Regions from separate parts of the Homo sapiens genome. Here region 2 is linked to region 1. Evidence: fine-mapped expression QTL. A gene starts in region 1. The other region holds a variant in brackets. All regions are shown on one strand. Distances are between the middles of the regions.

Region 1 (4,508 bases):
AAAGTAGGTCAATGCTGACCAATGACGTTCTGTTTCTAAAATTCACATCACCATTCCACTCAGTGATAATGAACACCAATGGGAAATTGGACCATCCGAGTGAGTGTCTAGAATCTCTGTGAGCAGATGGCTCTGCCATCTGTGGTTTTCCATTCCTCCATGGCAGTTAAGGATGCTATAAATTCACATCAGTAACATCTCTGTCCCACATCTGCTAGGAGGAGTCTACAGTCCCAGAGCAGTCATCTAGAAACCATGAGGTTTCCCAGAAAGGCTGCCATTTATTAAAATGAGTTAATTAATAGACTCACGGACTCTTTCAGGGTCTAGTCTGAATTCACTCACAGGAAACTAAACAGACTAAACTCTTTTCCCCTCATCTACTCTCTCCACAGTAATATGGCAAATATTTACATCTCTTTAAAACATGTACTAGCTGGGCCAGGTGACTGACACTTGTAATCCCAGGATTTTGGGAGGTTGAGGAAGGAGGATCACTCGAGGCCAGGAGTTTGAGACCAACCTGAGCAATACAATGAGACCCTGACTCTACAAAAAATTTAAAAATTAGCCAGGTGTGGTGGCATGTGCCTGGATCCCTTGAGACCAGGAGTTCCAGGCTGCAGTGAACTATGATGGAAACCCTGCACTCCAGCCTAGGAGACAGAGCAAGACCGTGTCTCAAAAAACAGAAAGACATGTACTAACTCATTAATCCTCAGGACAACCCTAAGGGAGTACTATTATCAGTCCCTAAAATGGTGAACACCGTTGAAAAGGCACTGGCACAGAGTGGTTAAGTAACTTGCTCCAAGTCACAGAGCCAGTAAATAGGGGGAAGGTGGTCTGAGGCCAGAGCCGAGGTTAAGGACTGTCAGAGCCAAGGCTGTGACCAAGGCGAGCCCGGCAAGGACAGGACCCTCGGCCTCGCCCACTAAGAAGCAGACATTTACAGAATTCCTAAGACGCCGCGTTCCATTTCGTTTTTAAGGAGTCCGATCACATGCGAAGCGCCCCTGCGTCTTAAGCCCAGCTTTTGGAAGGCACTGTCCCTTTCTAAGGGAACTATGGGTCCTTATTTCAGGACTGAGATTTAACATTTCAGTTTTTCGTTTCTGAGACAGAGTTTCACTCTTGTTGCCCAGGCTGGAGTGGCGCGATCTCGGCTCACTGCAACCTCCGCCTCCTGGGGGTTCAGGAGATTCTCCTGCCTCAGCCTTCTGAGTAGCTGGGATCACTGGCGCGCGACACCACGCCCGACTAATTTTGTATTTTTAGTAGAGACGGGGTTTCGCCATGTTGGTCAGGCTGGTCTCGAACTCCTGACCTCAGATGATCCACCCGCTTCGGCCTTCCAAAGTGCTGGGATTACAGGTGTGAGCCACCGCGCCCGGCTTAACATTTCAGTTTTTAAAAGTAGGAGCTGCATAAAGCAGGTGGCAGAAACAAGCAGCAGTGCAGGACGCCCGCCAACCTCCGTCCCCACGCACGAGTTCGAGAAGAGCCCGGAACAAGCTCCCCTGCGACTCTCCGGGAATACAGACCCCCTCCCCGGGATCCGGCCGGGGCTGGGCTCCGCGGCTCTCCCGCCCGGCCCTGGACCCCGCGCCCGGCTCCAGCGCACGAGGCTCCCGCCCCCCGCGGCTGCGGAAGCCCCTCCCCACGGGCGCCCGAGTCTCCCGCGCACCCGCACCTCCGCCGGGGCAACCTAGCAGCTCCTCCGGACGCCGAGGCCCGCGCCTCCCGCCCGCCAGGCCCACTTCCGGCCGCCTGCGGCCGCGGCCCGCCGGGGAACGGCCTAGAGATTCGAAACCTTTCAGGCCGACCCCAGCTCGCCCGCCTCCCTCCGCTGGCCCGCACCTACCGAGCACCAGGAGAGCCATGCCGAGCGCCGGGCTACGTGCAGTCCCCACCGCCGCCGCCGCTTCAGCCCTGCAGCGTGCCGCACGCCGCGCCCCCGCGCCCACGTCCCGCCCCAGGCCAGTCCGGTGGTCCGAGGGGCGGCCGCGCGGGGGCGGGCCGGAAGGCGCTCGCCAAGCCGTGGCTGCGGCTCATTGGTCCGGGCGGACATCGCTCACTCACATATCCAATGGGAGGCGGCCGGGTAGAGGTTACCGGTTTGGTTTTTTTTCACGGGGGCGGTGGCGAGCAGCGGAAGGCGGGGCCTGCTGGGGGCGGGGCTGGCAGTCTCGGCTCGCACCGCCTCAGCTCCTCCGGGCCCTCTCGGGGTGCTGCTCGGAGGGGAGTCCAGTACTGGGCGTTTTTACCTTAGTTCCTTATTCTGCACCCCCCCACCCCGCCTCCTCCTTGCCTGTGTGCGCCCCCACCCTCTTTATCCCGGGGGAGCGTGACTCGGCCTCAGGGCACCCACGGTCCTGGGAGCTGACAGGGAATTCCTCTTGTGCCCGACGAATATTCCGTGGACACACATTTGCTCCGCACGCGCTGTCTGCAATGTAATTCGACAAGTTTCTATTTTGTTGAATTACTTTTGAAAGTTCTTCCGTCCAGGGCGCATGGCTCTGCAGAGCCTTCTCCTCCTTCTCTGGAGAACCCCAGGGACTTAAGCGGTAGCCTCCTCGCTGACAGGGTCTCCACTTTGTCCTGGGGGGCGAGGGGGCTGGCAATGCGCTCACGTGGGTGTGTGCTTTGTAAAATATGCAAAAGTGAAAAAAAATATGTTTGTGGGGCAGGCTGGCGAGCAGTGGCATGATACAGTTCACTGCAGCCTTGAACTCCTGGGCTGCAGTGAGCCTCCTGCCTCGGCCTCCCAAAGTGCTGGGATCACAGGCATGGGCCACCACGCCCGGCAAAAGTAAAAATTTTTTTGCTTTTTTTTGAGATGGAGTTTTGCCCTTGTTGCCCAGGCTGGAGTGCAAAGGCGGGGTCTTGGCTCACTGCAACCTCTGCCTCCCGGGTTCAAGCGATTCTCTTGCCTCAGCTTCCCGAGAAGCTGGGATGACAGGTGCATGTCACCACGCCCGGCTAATTTTTGTATTTTTAGCAGAGACAGGGTTTCTCTTGCCTCAGCTTCCCGAGAAGCTGGGATGACAGGTGCATGTCACCACGCCCGGCTAATTTTTGTATTTTTAGCAGAGACAGGGTTTCTCCATATTGGCCAGGCTGGTCTCGAACTCCCGACCTCAGGTGATCCGCCTGCTTCGGCCTCCCAAAATGCTAGGATTACAGTTGTGAGCCACCACGCCCGACCTAAAAGTAAAATCTTTCAAGCACAAGTTAAGACCACTGTATCTTTCCGCCTTGATTCTCCCTCCTATGTTTGGAGTGGACTCGGACATTTTGTTTTTGTATTAGTAATTTCTCCATATTGTAGTGTGTAAGGCATAAGTATTCTTAGGCAGGGGTCCAGGAGTGGTGGGGGCCGGCTGGTGGGCTTCCTGGAGGAAGTGGCACTAGAGCTGCGTTTGGAAGATTTTTCAGGCAAACTGAACTCAGAGGCACAGCAGCCCTCTGAAGTCACGGGGGCCTCTCCTGGAAGCCACATGCCAGCATTGATTTTCCCCAGGGAGGCTGCTTGTCCCGGGACAGAAATCCTCAGCTTGGTACCCCGGGCAGCTCCTCCTGAATGTGAAGGTGCGTGGGAAGCCCAACCGGTGATCGCAGGGCTGTTTGGGATTCACAGCAAAGGGCAGTGGACTGCGAGCCTGTTCCTCCAGGCCTGTCTGCTTTCCCTGAAGGGCGCCTGAGGGGCAATGAATGCTGTTTGTTTTTCTGACCCCTTTCCTGCATTTGACACATTTCCCCCCTTAAATTTGCTGCTGTTGCTGACTGGATTACAGCGAAGTCCTTCCTTTTCCTCTCAGCCTGGAAAGTCATGCTTTTCCTCCCTGGATGGAGGAATTTAATTCTCTTACCAGAAGAGGGCCCCTTCATTTGTCTTTACATTAAGACAGTTAACTTTGTCCCCATGGGCCACAGACATCACAGCTTCCACAACGCACTCACGATCGAGTTTGTTTTCTCAGGGTTGTGAGTTGATCGCAGCCTCTCCAGGCCTGCTGTGTTTGGGTAGCAATCCTGCTTGGAACAGAACCCTCGAACTGCGGTGGCCCACACTGCCAGTGCCCTTTGTGTGCTGTGTGGTCTCTGTCCCAGTTGGCCTCAGGGCTGATCCTCGTGGAGAAAACAGAGGCCAGATCATAACTCCCTGCTAAATATCCCAGGTCACTGGCTGCTCTGGACCGTGGGCTGAATGCGCAGCTGCACGAGGCACACACCCCTGTGAAGCCCACTGTACAGGCACAGGCTTCGGGAAATGCACAGGCTTCTGGAAATGCACAGGCTTCTGGAAATGCACAGGCTTCTGGAAATGCACAGGCCTCCGGAAATGCACAGGCTTCTGGAAATGCACAGCCTTCTGGAAATGCACAGGCTTCCGGAAATGCACCAGGGCGTGTTGCTCATTTCTTTTTTCATTAAAACCAAATGCACATTAACAACCTAATTATACGAGCAACTGTCTCAGGCACAGTCACTGGCCCCAGGGA
Region 2 (4,000 bases), 37 kb before region 1:
AAGTGCTAGGATTACACGTGTGAGCCACCACACCCAGCTTGGTACTCATTTTCCTCTGTACCTTTTTGTATGGCCGAGAAGGTTTGTAATTTGAAGAGGTTTTAGAATGCGCGTCAGGCAGCCAGCCTGTTCATCTGACTCCCCACACACAGAACTCCCGGTGCAAGGCCTCTGCCCTGGGGCCCCTGCTGGGGGACGGGGATCTCCCAGGGCTACGAGATGGCAATCGGGATCTAAATTGAAGGGTGCAAGGAACAGGACAATCACAGCCCGAGGTTACAGGGGAGGCAGGGAAGAGGAGCAAGGCTCTGGAGCAGAGGAGCTGGCCCTTGAAGCCAGTGTGCTGGCAGGAGCATTCACTGCTCTTAAAGGCCAAGAGCCGGGGATCCTTGACAGGGCCGGCTGCCTTGGTAGGTGGCCTGGCCTCCCAGACCAGAGCCTCAGGCCCTTCATTGTCACAGGCCACCTGAAAGCCTGCACAGATGACTCTGGAAATACCTGGAGTCTGGCGGCAGCCCCTATGGGCATGGGCTCTGAGAAACAGGAAGGGTGACCCTGCCAGCATGCCAGCATGCTGTGAGATCGTGTCTGGGCCTGAGGGCTCCCACTTCCAGTCTTCTGGCCAATAGGACTCAGAGATGCTTAGACTCCTGGCCCCAAGAATTCCTGAGTTGCTAGAGACAGTGGCCCCAGTGGTCCTGTGTTGAGACTTGCTTGGGAGGCTGTGTCCCATTAGGACTTTGTGATATTGGAAGTGAAATGGACCTTGTAGGATAGTTTCCACCACTCTGCTTTACTATCAGGCAGCACGTCAGAGCCAGGGACACCCTGTGCCAGCTGTGGTGACGGAGGCCCAGGAGGGCTTGGTCTCTCAGGAATTTGATAAGCGGGAGCTAAAGCCCAGGCCCCTACACTCCCTGCACCCCGAGGCCCCCTGAGGCCTTAGCCTGGAGGGGTGTGGAAGGGGCAGGAGGGAAGGGCAGGCAGCCAGGAGTTAGGAAATCTCAGGGAGTGTCCTTGGTTCCCCAGCCCTCAGCTGCTGCCATGGACCCCAGGTGCAGGCCACCAGGCCCGGGGCCTCTGAGCCCCACTCCCGCACAAGGCCTAGCAGTGAGTCCAGCCAACAGATGCTTCTCTCCAACAGACTCATTACTGAGGACAAGGAAGGGGGCCTTTTCACTGTGACTCTGTTTCGAAAAGTGATTGAAGATTTCAAAACCAAGGCCAAAGAAAACAAGTAAGGGTCCTCCAGGTTTGGTTCATCTCCCGCTGCGGGGGGTCTCTGCCCCTCTGGAAAGCTTCTGAGTGAAAACCCATGATTTGCTTGTTTTAAGGTTCACTGTTCGTGAATTTTACTATGATGAGAAGGAAATTGAAAGGGAAAGGGAGGAGATGGCCAGATTGCTGTCTGATAAGAAGCAACAGTATGTGAGTATGTGATTGAGCAGCTCCTCCCGCCCCTACCCGGAGGCCTGGGGATAGAAGAGTCCTCCCAGGTCTCCAGCTCTCCCTCCTCCCTCTCATTGTCCCCAGGCTCCTGGGCTCACACCATGGGGACCGTCTGTTCTCATGGGACGCCTGAGCAGGGTCTGGGGGGAGGGGCGGTGAGCACAAAGGAGCCCAGGCGGTGGAGCTGGGGGCGGGAGCCGGGGGCCCACCCAAGCTGGCGCTTTCCACATGTGTTCTCACTGGTCCTGAGCACCGCCCTGCCAGGAAGGGGTTGCTAGCTCCACAGTATGGAGAAACTGAGGCTCTGAGAGGCAAGCTGGCCAGAGGACCCTGCCAGGCCTTCCTTGGACTGAGCAAGGCACGTGGGCTCCAGGCGGGAGCATCTGTGTGCAGGGTGGGCAGTGCTGGGCCTTGGAGATTGCAGCCGTGAGGTTTCCAGGGCGCCACTAGCCCCTGTATTTACCTCCCGTGTCCTTAGTGCGGAGAGGGTGCTTATCTGGAGACTTCCGACCACAGCCACTCAGAAACCCTTCACGGAGGAGGACAGCGTAGCTCACCAGGGAGCAAAACTAGATGCTC[AC/A]GTTTGAATTGTGAGCAGGAGAGCTTTGGGAAGGTCCCTCCACCGCTCCGGGAAGTGGGCACCTTCCATACTCAGGTTCTCCTGCTGCGATGCTGGGCTAGGCTGGGCAACTTGGAAGGAGCCTGTCTGGGTGGAATGTTTTTGGGACCCTTCTTCCTCATGCCCACCAGGGAGGGTTCCGTGAGCACCTTCCAGTCCAGCCTCTAGTGACAGGGCAGGAGGAATGAGTAGAAAGTTCTTGAGGCCTTTGGGGGAAAGTCACTGTGTGAACACAGCACTGTGAGGACTCCCATGGGGAGGAGCGCCGTGGCCGCGGGCAGGCTGGGAGTGCTCCCAGTGTCCGTGCTGCCAAGTGTGTGCTCCGGGCTCCTGGGGACCTGGCCTGTCTGTCAGCGACCTTTTTGCAGGGACTGGGGATGAGCAGCCACCCCGTCACAAGCGAGCCCAGCCACGGAGCCCCCGTAGTGGGGTTCTCGGAGCCCCTCTGGTCTGGTCTGTTTCCCTTTAGGGAGGAAACAACAGCTGATAATATACAAGTTTATATAGGGGGTTTTTCACCCTCCTCCTCCGAAATAGCACAGGGCGCTCACACACGTGTGTGTGTGTGTGCGCGCGCACGTGCATGTATGAGTGTGTGTGTGGACCTGTGTGTGCACAGCAAGTGAGACACACCTCAGAGCCAGACGCTGCTGGGCTCCGGCTGAGCCTGCGGGGAGGGTGTCGCCTCCTGAGGACGAGGAGCCGAGCTGGAGCTGGGGACCCCCAGCCCTTTGGATGCTCCAGTCTTCAGAGCAGGGCCCACAGACCCAGACACCAGGCAGGAAAGATTTTCCCCAGTGAAAGCTGAGCTCCAAAGTGTTTTCTTCCTTAGGCTCAGCTCACCTGAAACCCTCGCTACCTGGGCACGCCCTGGCTGTTCTCTTCAGCCAGGCTTTTTCCCAGCTCGATTCAGTCCTGGTCCCAACCCCCTGCGCAGTATCTCTGGACGGGGCTAGACCGTGGCAGCCTCCACACCAGGGAGGCCCTGCTGGGGGACAGGTGGCGAAGCAGGGCCTTTGGCACCCACCTGGGCACTGGCCCAGGCCTGCCAGACCCCCGGGGAACAGGGTGACACACAGGAGCCTGCCGCCTGCCACGTGGGGCTCAGGTTGCCAGCTGGCGTATTTTACATGGCGTAGCCTTCGCCCACACCACCCTGGGGGCCCTGCCAGGGTCTCTCTGTGGGCGGGAGGTGGAGGCACTCTCAGCTTGGGTAGTCCCACTGGCCTCCTGAGAATCTGGCCCCCTCTGGCCTATCTAGAAGTGCATGACCAAACGTCTTGCATCCTTTTTGTCACTCATCAACCAGAGGGACAGACCAGGCCCTGGGGTTTGAGTGTACTTTGAGAGCAGAGTGGGATGTCCCTGTGTTTCCCACCTGTTTGCAGAGACAGAATGGGAAAGGGTGAGTGTCCTAACTGCATGCCCAACTCATCTCCTGCACTCTGCATGCCGAGGTGCCCCCCGAATGCCAGGAAGGCATCTGTGGCTGGGCATGGTGGAGCCACCTTGACAGAGCGCAGAGAGCCGTTTCCACTAACGCCTCCCGGTGCTGTCCTGGTCGGCCTGCGATGGGGGTCCTGGCTGAGCCCAAGCAAGGGGAGGGAGCTCAGGGCTGACCCCTCTGCCAGAGATCGGCTCTGTGCTTGGAATATGGAACCCAAAGACCTTAACACTGCCCTTCTCTCTGCCTTCACCACTCCAGGAGCCCGGTGGGCACCTACCACATCTCTAGTCTAGCCAGCACGCGAGTCCCGAGGGTGGGCCTGAATTCCTGAGCTTGCTCTCGCGTGCCTTTCAGGCGATGAGAATGATTTATTTGTTTGTGATGCATGTTTGCTGAAAGATTAATAAATCATTTCTGTGCCTTTAGCAAACTTCCTGTGTTGCTCTTAAAAAGGGATCATCCACCTTCCCGGACCACAAGGTTAA

The links. PIP is the estimated chance that this variant, and not a neighbour inherited with it, causes the effect. A credible set is the group of variants that fine-mapping cannot tell apart.
Region 2: its variant is the best candidate, but not a certain one, in a credible set for the expression of PDIA6 in whole blood (TOPMed, PIP 0.84).

The regions. Positions count from the first base shown.
Region 1 is chr2:10,810,814-10,815,321 of GRCh38, forward strand. It overlaps PDIA6 (protein disulfide isomerase family A member 6), which reads right to left and starts at 1,972. Exons shown (of 13, transcript NM_005742.4): 1 at 1,865-1,972. The coding sequence starts at 1,883. RefSeq lists an enhancer at 975-1,034 and a silencer at 1,525-2,274.
Region 2 is chr2:10,773,644-10,777,643 of GRCh38, forward strand. It overlaps ATP6V1C2 (ATPase H+ transporting V1 subunit C2), which reads left to right. Exons shown (of 14, transcript NM_001039362.2): 9 at 1,145-1,237; 10 at 1,335-1,428; 11 at 3,942-4,000. Among named protein-coding and RNA genes, the nearest start is that of PDIA6, 37 kb to the right of the region's middle. The variant AC/A (reference allele first, on the strand shown) is at 2,029.